Regions from separate parts of the Homo sapiens genome. Here regions 1 and 3 are each linked to region 2. The links come from fine-mapping of genetic effects on gene expression. A gene starts in region 2. Each other region holds a variant in brackets. All regions are shown on one strand. Distances are from middle to middle.

What was found. PIP is the estimated chance that this variant, and not a neighbour inherited with it, causes the effect.
Region 1: its variant is the best candidate, but not a certain one, in a credible set for the expression of INSM2 in prefrontal cortex (CommonMind, PIP 0.75).
Region 3: its variant is the best candidate, but not a certain one, in a credible set for the expression of INSM2 in lung (TOPMed, PIP 0.72).

Annotation. Positions count from the first base shown.
Region 1 is chr14:35,471,289-35,476,515 of GRCh38, forward strand. It overlaps LOC107984681 (a long non-coding RNA gene), which reads left to right and starts at 3,720. Exons shown (of 2, transcript XR_001750713.2): 1 at 3,720-3,841. LOC105370450 (a long non-coding RNA gene) reads right to left here. Exons shown (of 3, transcript XR_943749.3): 3 at 4,634-5,137. The variant CCTT/C (reference allele first, on the strand shown) is at 3,150.
Region 2 is chr14:35,532,035-35,537,261 of GRCh38, forward strand. INSM2 (INSM transcriptional repressor 2) reads left to right here and starts at 2,130. Exons shown (of 1, transcript NM_032594.4): 1 at 2,130-5,020. The coding sequence starts at 2,219. The coding sequence ends at 3,919. RefSeq lists enhancers at 924-1,748, 1,749-2,572, 2,573-3,396, 3,077-3,226, 3,397-4,219 and silencers at 1,567-1,646, 1,747-2,116.
Region 3 is chr14:35,425,473-35,430,699 of GRCh38, forward strand. It overlaps the pseudogene DNAJC8P1. Among named protein-coding and RNA genes, the nearest start is that of NFKBIA, 23 kb to the left of the region's middle. The variant T/A (reference allele first, on the strand shown) is at 2,179.

The DNA of each region.
Region 1 (5,227 bases), 61 kb before region 2:
TCTACTTCTGTGCTTTAAAGTAAAGCAGGTAATTAGCTTAAGTATAAAAAACTAAAACATTGGTAAAACCCCAGATTTTAAAAATAAAAGTATTTGATTATATAAAAATAAAACAGTACATTGTAGATGAAGGTTAAGGAAAATAAATATAGTACTTGATGATCCTTACAAAGTGTATATGATATTCTAAGTATTAATCTGAGTTTAGGATGTTTCAAATTGTAAAAGGAATCCCACTTAATTGTGCATTTTAATGTGGTTACAATGGTGAATTTCATATCATATGAATTTTATCTCAATAGAAAAAGGAACTCAAACTCTGACTTTGTCCTAGTTTTGGGTATGAGGATTAATCATAGTTTACAAAGAGAAAAAAAAGCCCCAAGATTTGATAGTTCATTATGAGCAAAAGAAAAAGGAAATAATCAAGAACAGAGGGAAATTAGTTTTTTTTAAAAGCCACTGAACTAAGAAATACAACCGTGGTTCTTTAATTATTAAGGGAAGGGCTCTGAATTTGCTCCATTATCTTAATTATGTTTCTGGAGCAAACATTATTTCAATGTGATAAAAGATGACATGACACTAAAGGTAAAGCCTGAGCAGATGTTACATGAGTAACAAGCCAATAGGCCCACATTCTGGTAATTTCTTCCCCACTAGACATGTTCTCATTAATCTGTGATTAATAGGATTCAAGTATAGTAAATGATGATGATCTATTGTCTGTCTTTGTCGAGCACCATGGACGGAGTAATTTGTCAGCTCAGCTTTTGTGTGACTATTTAATAGCAAAGAGGGAGAGAGAAAAGACGCTAATCTTCTAATTGGCATCTATAGAGAAGGTCTAGGAGAATACTGCCTGTATGGAAATAGCCAGTGTAATTCCTATGCCTAAGGAAAGCAAATGCAGACTCTATGTATCTTTTATATAATTAATTGTGCCTTCTATTGAACAGAAGTTGGGGATGAGGATAAAGAAAAAACGGCAATAGAACAGTCTTAAGAGATCATAAGGTAACATTTATTAACTTATAACATTTATTAACTTAGATATGAGGCTTTTTCAACTATAGTGACTTGCCAAAAAAGTGGGCAAAAGAAAAAAAAATAACTTCTTTTGGTTAAAAAATAGTTGCTCAGATGGACCAAAATAACAATGTATAAAATAAAAAGCCAGCATCATCGTCAGTACCACCACTAGCAACACAGAATGCCCTGATGTTATGATGGTAAAAAATTTAATACATCAATAAATCAATAAATAAATTCAAAACAGATGTTTTCAATGAAAATAATTTGATGATTAGTCCTGTCAAGTCTACCATAAAAACTTCGTCAAATGGCTATACCTTGGTGAGAATGATGTGTGAAATTGCTCTTTCCCTTTTTCTCCCTCTCCCTTTGTATCTTTAAAAATTTTTGGCCGTGCATGGTGGCTCACACCTGCAATCCCAACACTTTGGGAAGCCGAGGCAGGTAGACTGCTTGAGCTCAGGAATTCAAGAGCAGCCTGGGCAACATGGTGAAACCCCTCTCTACAAAAATTTCAAAAAATTAGCCAGGTGTTGTTGTGGTGTGCACCTGTAGTCCCAGCTACCCAAGAGGCTGAGGTGGGAGGATCACTTGAGCCTGGGGGATTGAGGCTGCAGTGAGCTGTGATCATGCCACAGGGCTCCAGTCTGGGCGACAAAAACAAACAAAAAACAAAAAACCCGTCTCAAAAAATTTTTTTCTTCTGCACTCTTTTCTATATTTTAGGTTCTAGGTAGTTTACTGGTTGGTGGAAATGAAAAGGACAAGGTCTCACTGGGAGAAAATATTTGCAATGTATACAACCAACAAATAATTAGTATATGCACAGTATATAGAGAAAGACTACTGATCAACCTTAGAGAGAAATTGGTGAAGAATAAAAACAGGCAGTTGACAGAAGAGGAAATCCAATAGGGTCCATGAACATATGAATAGATGTTCAATATAACTAATAATCAGGACAATTTAAGTCAAAAGAATAAGATGTCATCCTCGCCCATCGGATTAGCCAAAATTTAAAAAATGGACTAGATCACATGGGGACTTAAATATGAGTGGGAGTAAAAATCAGACAACCATTTTAGAATGCAATTTGTCAATATCAAGTAATTCATTTTCAATTTATCAGTATGTATAGCAATTCTACTTCTTCAACAATATCCCAAAGAAACCCTTGCACATGTGCACAGAGATATCTAGAAGAATATTCATTACAGCATTGTTTATAATAGTGAAAAATGAAAACTACCTACATATTCACCAGGGATGTGTTCATACTATAGAATGCTATATAGCAGTTTGAATGAATACATGAATGATTATTACCAACATGGATAAGCCTTAAAGCTCAGAGTAAGTTAAGAAAATTTAGCAAATTTAAGAATATTCAGGGTATGCCACTACTAAAATAGTTTTAAAGCATATGCAAAACAATAAAATGCATATATATTAATATATGGATACATACATATGTGATAAGACTGTAAAAACATGCATGGGAATGACATAACACCAAATCCTGGATAGTAGTGATTATCTCTGAGAAGGGAAGGAAGAAAATGAATTTGGAAGGTTTCAACAGTATTTCTAGTGTTTCATTTTTAAAAAATGCAATAAATGTAACAAAATGTTAAGATTTGGTAATGCTGGATGATAAGTCTTTGTTACATTATTCTCTATGTTTTTATTTTTTATTCTCTATTTTTGAGAATATTTTGAAATAGTTCATAGTTTCAAAAGTGGAAAAATGCACAAGGTAAGGAAAAAACATATGGTTTCTAATTTCCAGGTGCTACTATTGTGTCAGGTGAATAGACAATTCACAAATAGCTGTAATGTAGTTTGATAAGTGTTTCAATGTGGCCACAAAGTGCTATATGTAGATATAGATTCACACACACACACTCTTTAAGATATATATATGTGTGCTGTTAAGACATATGACCAAATTCTTTTGGTATCAAGTAGTTGAACCAAAAAATATAATTGACTTTTAAATGTCTTTTCAAATTCAGACAGAAAAAATGTGGTGGTAGCGGCAGTAGTAGCAGTAGTGTAGTAGTTTCTTCTTCTTCTTCTTCTTCTTCTTTCTTCTTCTTCTTCCTCCTCCTCCT[CCTT/C]CTTCTTTCTTCTTCCTCCTCCTCCTCATTCTTCTTTCTTCTTCTCCTTCTCCTTCTTCCTCTTCCTCCTCTTCTTCTTCTTCCTCCTCTTCCTCCTTTTCCTCTTCTTCCTCTTCCTTCCTCTTCTTCCTCTTACCTCCTCTTCCCTCCTTCTCCTTCCCCCTCCTCCTCCTCCTTCTTCTTTTGGCAAAAGGGCAAAGATTAGGCTGTAGTTTCTAAGAACAGCATTAAAATCTCTAACTTTATGCCTTTCATGAATTTGAGAAGCTAATTTATTTGGCCTCAAATAGTTAAAAAAAAAAGGTAGTTGGTGGGGTGGGGGTGGAATGGGGTTTTGATAGAGAATCTTTTAAGGTCTTTTCCAGTTTGAAAAATTTAAGATTCTATTTTTTTTCCTGAAACATTAACCCCAATTTATATGAACAAGATTTTCCAAGATTTTTCCCCAAGTTAGTAATAAAAATACATTTATTCATGAAATATTATAGTTGTTATCAAAAGGCAAAGAAAAACTTTTATGAAATTAGAAGCAAACCATTCTTTTTTTTTTTTTCTTTTTTTTTTGAGATGCAGTCTTGCTCCATCACCCAGGCTGAAGTGCAGTGGCAAGATCTTGGCTCACTGAAACCGCCATCTCCCAGGTTCAAGCAATTCTTCTGCCTCAGCCTCCCGAGTAGCTGGGATTACAGGTGCGTACCACCATGCCTGGCTAATTTTTGTATTTTTACTAGAGACAGGGTTTCACCATGTTGGCCAGGCTGGTCTCAAACTCCTGATCTCAGGTGACCCGCCCACCTCACCCTCCCAAAGTGCTGGGATTACAGGCGTGAGCCACTGCACCCAGACTCTTTTTTTTTTGAGATGAAGTTTCGCTCTTGTTGCCCAGGCTGGAGTGCAATGGTGCGATCTTGGCTCACTGCAACCTCTCTCTCCTGGGTTCAAGAGATTCTCCTACCTCAGCCTTCCGAGTAGCTGAGATTACAGGTGCCCGCCACCATGCCTGGCTAATTTTTGCATATTTAGTAGAGATGGGGTTTCACCATGTTGACCAGGCTGGTCTTGAACTTCTGACCTCAGGTGATCCACCCGCCTCAGCCTCCCAAAGTGCTTGGATTACAGGCGTGAGCCACCGTGCCCAGCTTTTTTTATTAAAATTTTTTTTTTTTAGAGACAGAGTTTCACCCTGTCACCTGGGCTGGAGTGCAGTGGGGAGATCATAGCTCACTGTAACCTTTAACTCCTAGGCCCAAGTGATCCTCCTGCCTCAGCCTCCCAAGTAGGACCACTACTCCTGGCTAATTTAAAAAAAAAATTTGTAGAGATAGAGTCTTGCTCTGTTGTCCAGGCTGGTCTTGAACTCCTGACCTCAATTGATCCTCCTGTCTCAGCCTCTCAAAGTGCTGGGCTTATGGGCATGAGCCACTGTGCCAAGCCATTCTTGATGGGAAGCTAAAAGAAACAGCTAATTTGTTGTGATTAGATTTTGAGAAGGAGATCTAGAGATTCAGAGAATATATATATTCTTTATTCAAAGTACATGGAGAGAGCTGGAGAGAGATGCATCAGATTTTAGACTATGAGATCTGCAGATATAAATTTGTATAATTGGGACTTCTGAGATAGGTAGAAATATTTTAGCTTATATGTTACATTTCTGAACCTAACAGGATTCTACATCAAGGATGATTATTTTTAGATCAGGCAATGAGCTGAACTTCTTTGGTCCCACATGCTGAGCTGCAAATATACTCCCTAGTGACTTTTTATCACTTAAGGTATTCTGCAAAGTATTCTCTAATCTTCCTAAAAATACTAATCCTGAGTACAACATGAAGGGACCAGAAAGCAAAAATGTATCTGTTTGTCAACAATGTAATAATTATTGTCTCTGCTCCTTGATAATAATCTGGCTGGTAATAAACCTTTGATGGCCTCTGATCCTGGCCCTTCAGGATGTTGATTTCTGGTTGGAAAAGTTAATTCTCCTGGAGGATAACAAGATAGAAAAAGACAGTCTTCTATTTACATTCCTCTGGCAGCCAGGTTTAAACATTAAGGTATAAAACCTCCCAAAT
Region 2 (5,227 bases):
GGAAAAGGGGTTATCTTAAAGTATTAAAATTATTACATCAGATTTTCCACACCACACAATATGTATGGATCATGAGGAGGAAAGGAGAATTGAGAATTTGAGTTAGAAGTCACATATAAGCTGACATGTCAGAAATGACCAATTTGGGAAACTAAGTTTACCAACACTGCTAAAGGACTCAAATATTTTAAACAGTGGTTCAGATATTGTGATTATGCAGTATCAGGTTTATTTAATTTTGTATCATTTCATGCTATTTAATGAGACAATATAATGAGTGTTTTTCAAACTGTGGGTCCTAATCCATTTGTAAATTATGAAATCAATGTATTTTCTATGACTGCTATTTTTAAGAAACAAAATACAATACAATGAAAAATATGAGAATGCACTGCAAACATTTCAATGTATGATTTCATAATTTACAAATAGATTAGGACCCACAGTATTATTTTGTGAGACTTTTGTTTCAGTTACATGTGTGTATATACTATAGAACACATTTATTATTGTGGGATGTGATTAAGGAAAAAAATAGTTTGAAGCCATTGGTGTAGTGGAAAGAGTCTGGGCTTTGGAATTAGCCAGAACAAGTTTGAATCTGAGCTCTGCTTGGCTTTTACCCATTATCTAACTAAATGGCTCAATCACCACATTGAAAAAAGAGAGAAATAATATCTCCTTTTTGGTTTGTGTGTGTACATGTTGTGTGCGTGTGTATGAAGATTAGAGATTACTTAAGCAGAATGCCTATAACATAGTCAATGATTAATATATAATTACTTCCAAATCTTTCTCAAAATAATGTTCTCCCTGTAAAAATACTTCACTGAAGAAAGACAATGTGTTTTATTGATGACTACATCTGTTATGCTATCGTGTACTTTTAAAACACCTCTGTCAGTCTTTTTCTCCAATTTGGTTTAGTAAGGAGACTTGTGCACATAGTCTTTCCCCTTCCTGTTCTCACACTTTATTTACCTATATTATGGATCTTGGCACTTTATATCTGTCATAGATGGTCTAATTGTTGCCTAGTTCAATTACTACTAAACACTTTCAAACCTCTTCTAGTTCTCAAAATAGTGGTGGGAGCATTGCAGGGTGCCAGATGAAAATCTGTTGAGTTTGCTCTACAGCACACCTTTTGCAAAGTATCACTTGTGGTGTACGGGGAAGCAGCTGTAATGCTGATTCCGCCGGCATTTCTCACTCAATCTACTCCATGCTAAACAGGCCGGTTAGGAATTAAGTCATACTCTGGGTAGTACAAGTGGAAAGTGTGAACAGAGAAACCACTTTATGCGAGGACAGTGGAAAATGAGATCCTCCTTTCCTCTCCCTACTCCTGCTCCTATCGAGAAGCACTTAAGAGCGCAGACGCCCAGGACCCAGCCGCGCTCGGGCGTCCCGACTCGGAGGCTGGCGGCGGGCAGGCACGCTCTCCCGCGCTGAGAGCCCTTCTGCGGAGATGAACTCTCGAGTGTCGCCGCCGCGCGCGGGCCCGATCGATACCGGCGGGCGGACGTGCTCCCGCCGCCGACAGCAGCCACAGGGCGGTGCAGTCAGCTGTCCGGCCGCTCGGTCGCACTTCTCATCAGCTCAATACCCGCAGAGGACGTGCACCGGTTCCCTCCCGGACACCCACCCCGTGGTCTCCGCCGCACCTTCTGCCCACCGCCCCTTCCGCTCGGCCGTCCGGCGCAGAGCGGGAGCTTTTCAGCCAGACGCCCTCGCGTTGGGGGCAGCCGGGTCCCGGCCCGAGCGGAGGGCGTCGTGAGGTGGCCTTTTCGCCCGGCTCCCCAGTGGGACGCTCCGCGGAGGCAGCCAAGGCGGGGAGTGTCGAGCTCCCTCACACTCTGGACCTTACCTTCTGGCGTCTTCGCCCGGGAGGCTGCAGGGGGAGGCGGACCCAGCCGGCCACAGGGGCAGGTTCGCGGCGCTGTGAGGCGGGGCTGGGCGTGCGCCGCCGCCGCCGCCAGATTCGTCTACTCCAGTGAATCGGCACGGGAGAAAGCCCCGCCCCCGGCGCCCGCTCCCACTCCTGATTGGCCGGGCCAGCCCGGGGAGGCCCGGCGGGACCCCGGCCCGCGTCTCAGCTATAAAGATAGCCCCGGCATGACAGCCGCGGCGAAGCTCTTCTAGTTCATCTGCTGGCCGGCTCTCAGTCCCCGTGGCGCCCCCTTTCCTCTTGTCCCAGAGCGCTCTCGACTCCACCATGCCAAGGGGATTCCTGGTGAAGCGAACTAAACGGACAGGCGGCTTGTACCGAGTTCGCCTTGCGGAGCGTGTCTTCCCTCTGCTGGGGCCCCAGGGGGCGCCGCCCTTCTTGGAGGAGGCTCCCAGCGCCTCCTTGCCCGGCGCGGAGCGGGCGACACCCCCCACCCGAGAGGAACCAGGAAAGGGGTTGACGGCGGAGGCGGCCCGGGAACAGTCGGGGTCGCCATGTCGGGCGGCTGGGGTGAGCCCGGGGACGGGCGGGCGGGAAGGCGCGGAGTGGCGGGCGGGTGGCAGGGAAGGTCCCGGGCCCAGCCCCAGCCCCAGCCCCAGTCCAGCGAAGCCGGCAGGCGCAGAGCTGCGTCGGGCGTTCCTGGAGCGCTGCCTCAGCTCGCCCGTCTCCGCCGAGTCTTTCCCCGGGGGCGCCGCCGCCGTGGCCGCTTTCTCCTGCTCCGTGGCGCCAGCAGCCGCACCGACCCCGGGGGAGCAGTTTCTGCTGCCGCTTCGGGCGCCGTTCCCAGAGCCCGCGCTTCAGCCGGACCCTGCGCCCCTCTCGGCCGCCCTTCAGAGTCTGAAGCGGGCGGCCGGCGGCGAGCGCCGCGGCAAGGCACCCACGGACTGCGCGTCTGGACCCGCGGCCGCGGGAATCAAGAAGCCAAAGGCCATGAGGAAGTTGAGCTTTGCCGATGAGGTGACCACATCCCCTGTCCTGGGCCTGAAGATCAAGGAGGAGGAGCCCGGAGCGCCGTCCCGGGGCTTGGGGGGCAGCCGCACGCCACTGGGGGAGTTCATCTGCCAGCTGTGCAAGGAGCAGTACGCAGACCCCTTCGCGCTGGCCCAGCACCGCTGCTCCCGCATCGTGCGCGTAGAGTACCGCTGCCCTGAGTGCGACAAGGTGTTCAGCTGTCCTGCGAACCTGGCCTCCCATCGCCGCTGGCATAAGCCGCGTCCTGCGGCTGCAAACGCCGCCACAGTCTCCTCCGCCGACGGGAAGCCGCCTTCTTCGTCGTCTTCGTCCTCCCGGGACTCCGGGGCCATTGCATCTTTTCTGGCGGAGGGAAAGGAGAACAGCCGAATAGAGCGGACTGCGGATCAGCACCCGCAGGCCAGGGACAGCTCCGGGGCGGATCAGCACCCGGACAGCGCCCCGAGGCAGGGCCTCCAGGTGCTGACGCATCCAGAGCCACCGCTGCCTCAGGGCCCCTACACGGAGGGGGTGTTGGGGCGCCGGGTACCTGTGCCGGGCAGTACCAGTGGTGGCAGGGGATCCGAGATTTTCGTGTGCCCATATTGCCACAAAAAGTTTCGTCGCCAAGCCTATCTGCGCAAGCACCTGAGCACTCACGAGGCGGGCTCGGCCCGTGCGCTAGCGCCGGGCTTTGGCTCCGAACGCGGTGCCCCACTTGCCTTCGCTTGCCCATTGTGCGGAGCGCACTTCCCTACAGCAGATATCAGGGAGAAGCACCGGCTGTGGCATGCTGTCCGCGAGGAGCTGCTCCTGCCCGCTCTGGCGGGGGCTCCTCCCGAAACGTCGGGCCCTAGCGGGCCATCTGACGGGAGTGCCCAGCAAATTTTCTCGTGCAAGCACTGCCCGTCCACTTTTTTTAGCTCTCCAGGGCTGACCCGGCACATCAATAAGTGCCACCCCTCAGAAAGCCGGCAAGTGCTGCTGCTGCAGATGCCACTGCGGCCTGGCTGCTGAGGGACGAGAGACCAGGATGATTTCGAGGTTGGCCTTAGAGGAAACAGATCATGGGAATTTCTGTGGGGCTTTCTTCAACTTGCAAGTTTACTTTCATTCCTTCCTATGTTTTAATCCCCTAAAATTCTCCCTGTAGTCAATGTTCCACCAGAGGAGCGGACAGTGAAATGTAATATCCCTCTCTAGAGCAGGTATGTATATGGTATAAACCTTGAGATCAAAGACTGTCAGCTTTAAATCCTTCTCACTTTCCCCACTAAAATAGGATTTTTCCCCTTAAAACTCTGGAGACCCTAACGAATCCTATATGATTTGTAATTCCTATGGAAAGTCGCGGTGAATGCGTGCATGTCTCAATGTCCACAAAGGATTCTGGCTACCCTTTGGTAGCCAATGTTTTTTTTGTCTTGTCATCACAGGCGCCTATACAGCTTCTGTCTCAATAGGGTCAGATATTTTGCACTGTATATTCTGTGAATTAAAAGTTATGTGATTGGTGTCAAACTTAAGGAGATTCAAGACCTGGCAGAAAATGTAAGAGGATTTTTGCTGCTTTTGGGGTGCATGGGGATCTCCCCTGTAAACTTTCCTTTGCCCAATTATATGTACATGTCCATTCTTAAGTTGGTGTTTGGAGGTGGGGAGGATGCTACTTTACTGGAGTTGAGACACCCCCTAAAATTCTCACCCTCAGCTATTTTGTGGGCAGTATTCAGGAAGAGCTACTTCAAACCTTTCTTTAAATGGCTTTTTGGAAATACAGAAGTCGTTTCCTCAAGTTTGACTGTTTTAATGGGGTTTCACCCAAATTGTTTAATGCTTCTGCTGTAAATGTCATACTGTGTATTCATTATGAAAATATGTACAGCTTAAGGAAGATGTTAACACCTGTAATCCACTAAGGAACTGAATGGCAATTTGCTCAATATTCAGTATTTTCTTTTCAGCGGCAACTTGTTTTTGATTTTTTTAAAAAACCATTTCAGTGTACATTGTGTACTAATTCCCTACTAGCCAGTTTGGGACATTGGCTGAGCACTGCCTGACAGAAAGCCCGTATTTGTAAGATGCTTACCACCAAATAAATGTACATAGACTGTGCTTTTGTTGTGTTCTGTGTTTGTCTTAAGAATCCTGTTGAACACAGCCTATTTTCAAAGCCACATTTCTTATCTCCCCAATGTCGGTATCCTGTTTTAGAATGTTAGTGACCCATTTGGACAGAATACAAAGACGGAAATATTTTGCAAATGAATGTGATGGTGCAGGAATGCAATGAAAAATTTTCCTTTGAAGTATGGCTGCAAA
Region 3 (5,227 bases), 110 kb before region 2:
ACAAAAATTAGCTGGGTGTGGTGGAGGGTGCCTGTATTCCCAGCTACTCAGGAGGCTGAGGCCGGAGAATCGCTTGAAGCTGGGAGGCAGAGGCAGCAGTGAGATGAGATTGTGCCACTGCACTCCAGCCTGGGCAACAGAGTAAGACTCCATCTCAAAAAAAAAAAAGAAAGAAAATGGTGCTAATGTTTGCAATTGAGAATCTCCGCAATGTAAATTTTTTACTTGATAGTTCTAATTAAAAGTGTCAGTTTTCACATTCTATATATAATTCCTATAATTATACATCATTTAAATTTTTTATTTTAAAAAAATTTATGTTCATAAGAAGTTGCAAAATAGTATAGAGAGTTCCCCTATGTCCTTCACTCATCTTTCTTCAGTGCTAATATTATCAAAACCAGCAAACTGATGCTGGTACAATGTTAACCATAACTACAGATCTTATTCAGATTTCACAGTTCTTACACATACTTTTTTTTTCAGTATACAAGTTCTATGAAATTTTTTCATATGTATAGGGTTGTGTAACCATTACCATGATCAGGATACAGAATTGTGCTGTCACCACAAAGAAACTCCTTGTATTACCCCTCACAGTCACACTGTCCCCTGTCCCTAAGCCCTGGCACTGACTGATCTGCTCGCCATCATTATAATTTTGTCATTTTGAGAATGTTACATAAATGGATTTATATTTCAACTTTTGAGATTGCCTTTTTTTCAAGCCAATTCACTCAGTGTAATGCCTTTGAAATCTATCCACGTTGCTATATGTGTTAATAGTTTGTTCCTTCTTATTAATGAGTAGTGCACCATTATATGGGGGTACCAGTTTATCCATTCACCTGTTGAAGAATATTTGTTTACAGTTTTGGGCTCTTACAAATGAAACTGCTATAAACATTCATGTACAGGTTTTTGTGTGAATATAAGCTTCATTTCATTTCATTTCTTTCTTTTTTTTTTTTTTTTTTGAGACTGAGTTTTGCTCTGTCACCCAGGCTGGAGTGTAGTGGTGCCATCTCAGCTCACTGCAACCTCCCCCTCCCAGGTTCAAGCAATTCTCTGCCTCAGCCTGCTGAGTAGCTGGGATTACAGGTGCCCACCACCACGCCCAGCTAATTTTTTTGTATTTTTAGTAGAGATGGGGTTTCACCATTTTGGTCAGGCTGATCTTGAACTCCTGACCTTGTGATCCACCCACCTCAGCCTCCCAAAGTGCTGAGATTACAGGCGTGAGCCACTGTGCCCAGCCCATAAGCTTCATTTCTTTAGATAAATACCCAGTTTTGTAAGGTTTTAGGAGTTAAGATCATTGGTGGTAAAATACTTTGTAAATGGCAATGCTCACTTCAAACTTAAGGTGGGTTATTCTGAGTTATATTAAGAATGATAAACAGTGACAAAAGGCTGAAAAATTTGGGGAGAATATGTGGTAAGAGTTGGCAGCAAAGGGAACCAAATTTTGAGTTTTTTACTTTGTAGAAAATAAAATGCTGTTAACGGAAAGTGTGAGACATAGGGGCAGCCTTTTATACAGTGGAAATGTGGGATTGAACTAAAAACAAAAGACTGAAATATCTTGGTACATTGGCAGTGCACCAGCCACTGAAGGATGTACACGATTAGTGGAGAGAATATTAATAGGAAGAAAGAAGAACAGAGACAGAAAGGCAGATTCATTCATTCATCTAGCAAATATTTATTGGGCTCCTACTATTGGCCATGCATTGTTGTTGACCCTAGACCCACCCAGGAACAAGTCTCTGTGTTATGAAGCTTATATTCTAGATAGAGTGAAAGACAATAAACAAGGTAATATGTAAGGGAACGTCAGAGAGTGATAAATACTATATACAAGTGTAAAACAGGGAAAGGAACTGGAGAGAGACTGGAGATGCTATTTTGGAACATATAGTCAGGAAGGCCTCTGTGTGGAGGTGATAGTTTTAGAAGTTTCTGGGGAGCTGAGATCATAGGAAGGAAAGAATTGAGCCAAGACTTGGTTCAGAGGAAGTTGTTGGAAGACAACATAGGAAATTATGACATCTGAACATAAACAAGACCAAATGCACAAAATGTAAGGACAAATATTAAAGTACATTAAGATGCAAAGCATCTCTATGACAAGTTACCTAAAAAAAGAGTTAAGCTGTAGACTTTGGTGCTTTTTTT[T/A]TTTTTGAGATGGAGTTTTGCTCTTATTGCCCAGGCTGGAGCATAATGGCGCAGTCACTGCAACCTCCGCCTCCCGGGTTCAAGCGATTCTCCTGCCTCAGCCTCCTGAGTGAGTAGGTGGGATTATAGGCATGTGCCACCATGCCCAGCTAATTTTGTATTTTTAGTAGAGACGGGGTTTCATTGTGTTGGCCAAGCTGGTCTCAAACTCCTGACCTCAGGTGATCTGCCTGGCTTGGCCTCCTAAAGTGTGGGGATTACAGGCTTGAGCCAATGTGCCCGGCCAAGACTTTGAAATGATATTTAGGAGTGTAAATTAGCACAGTCAATTTCAAGATAATTTGTTATATACATTCATAGGAAGAAGGAAATTTTTGGTTTTGGGGGTCAGGGACCAAGTCATTATCAGGGTATGCTGCATTTCTTTTACTTTATATAACTGTGTCTTTCTGTGTTCTACAGAGAAACAGCTTGAAAATGGGGTACTATCCAAATGTCAGTTAGTGTTATTATTGATGATTTTGTGACTCCTACTGTGCCTCTCATGCACTATGATGGTAAAATGTATCCGTTCTCTAAAGAAAGGCACTATGGCTGCAGTGAGCCATGGTCATGCCACTTCACTCCAGCCTGGGCAACAGAGCAAGACCCTGTCCCAAACAAAGCAAAACAAAACAAAAGCAAAACACTATCCTTATCCTTTTTCTTTTCTTTTGACAATATAGGCAGATAATAATGTTCAAGTTTTCTTGGAAGATCAGGAAAAAAAATAGTGAAATAGATCATCTTTATTCCTGCATTATTTTTGTGCAGAGAGGGATGTTCCCATTCTACCATCCTCTGCAGCTTTTCTCTAGACAGGATGTCTACTTTTCTACTGACTACCTTTTCCAGGGTAGGAGGGTAGGGCAGGGCATTGGAAAGAGGTGAGCTTTAGGTCAGTTTTAACAAAACACAATGTTATAGATACAATTGAAGCCCCTTTTGAAGCTCTTTGCAATCTCAATTCCCTGACTCCTTTGCCAATATGTATTCTTCCTATATTTTCATACTTTTGGTACATATGAATGTATCTGTAAATAATGGATATTAATACTATTAAGTCTTACATAAATGGTATCTTAAATGTATCCTTTTGCAAATTACTTTTCCATTCACCATTATGATTTGAGATTTACTCATATGGATTCATGTTGTTCCTTCACGTAACTTCATTGCTATATTCTACATTTATTCATCCATTTCCTTACTTGTGATAGACAATACTATGGTGAATATTTTCTGTATGTGTCCCCTTAGGCACATCCATGATGGTTTCTTCAGGGCAGTGATACTCAAAGTGTGATGCATGAACCAGCAGCATCAGTATGACCTGGGATTTGTTAGAAATGTAAATTTTTGGGCTTTAACCCATGCTTACTGAATCAGAAACGGGGGTGGGGTGGGGTGGGGCCTACCAAACTACTTTAATAAGTTCTCCAGTGATTCTGACGCACACTAAAGTTTGAGAATTACTGTTCTAGCTATAATTTTATAGAATTGCTGGGTTATAGGATATGTGTATTTACAAATTTATGAGATTTAGACAAATTGTCTTTAAAGTGATTGTGCTAATTTACACTCTATTTTTAAAAAAGCTTAAGTAATGTTTTTGTTACTTTAATACATTGAATATTAATTTATTAAGCTGAAGTAACATCTCATCTGTCCATACAGGCAGCCCTTGAAGACATTTTGTTTTACTTTATTTTATTTTTTTTGAGATGAAGTCTCACTCTGTTGCCCAAGCTGGGGTGCCGTGGTACAATCTCAGCTCAGTGCAGCCTCCGCCTCCCGGGTTCACGCCATTCTCCTGCCTCAGCCTTCCAAGTAGCTGGGACTACAGGCGCCCGCCACTACGCCCGGCTAATTTTTTTGTATTTTAGTAGAGACGGGATTTCACTGTGTTAGCCAGGTTGGTCTCGATCTCCTGACCTTGTGATCCGCCCGCCTCGGCCTCCCAAAGTGCTGGGATTACAGGCGTGAGCCACTGCGCCCGGCCAATTTACACTCTTAAATATAGTTTCTGCCCATAGATTTTAACTTTTTAAAAAAGTTGTGGGGAAATGGCGGCTTCAGGAGAGAGCGGGACTTTGGGCGGCGGAGGCGGCACAGAGGAAGCATTTATGACCTCCTACAGTGAGGAATAAAGATGGCATACAGCATACCTCATATTCATTCCAACCCTGACAGTGACACCAAGAATGTTTTCCTGGGACTGCCTGGTGCTTGTTCTCCCGGGCCTTGTCTTCAGGGGAAACAAATAGAGAAGGGAGACTTGGTTCTAACATCCAAAAACCACATTGAAAGACTGACCCGTCCTGGTTCCTCTTACTTCAATTTGAACCCATTTGAGTTTCTTCAGATAGATCCTGAAGTTACAGATGAAGAAATAAAAAAGAGGTTTCGGCAGTTATCCATCTTGGTGCATCCTGACAAAAATGAAGATGATGCTGACAGAGCACAAAAGGCTTTTGAAACTGTGGACAAAGCTTACAAGTTGCTACTGATCAGGAGCAAAAGAAGAGGGTCCTGGATGTAATTTAGGCAGGAAAAGAATACGTGGAACACACTGTGAAAGAGAGAAAAAAAAAAAACAATCAAAGAAGGAAGGAAAACCTACGATTGTAGAGGAGGATGATCCTGAGCTGTTCAAACAAGCTGTATATAAACAGAAAATGAAACTCTTTGCTCAGCTGGAAATTAAAAGGAAAGAGAGAGAAGCCAAAGAGATGCATGAAAGGAAACGGCAAAGGGAAGAAGAGATTGAAGCTCAAGAAAAAGCCAAACGAGAAAGAGAGTGGCAGAAAAACTTTGAGGAAGGTCGAGATGGTCGTGTGGACAGCTGGCGAAACTTCCAAGTCAATACAAAGGGGAAGAAAGAGAAGAAAAATCGGACCTTCCTGAGACCACCGAAAGTAAAAATGGAGCAGCATGAGTGACCACCCGGGGTCACAGGCACAGAACCTTCCCCCTGCTATCTCCCTTCCTGCTTCGAAGGACTCATTCT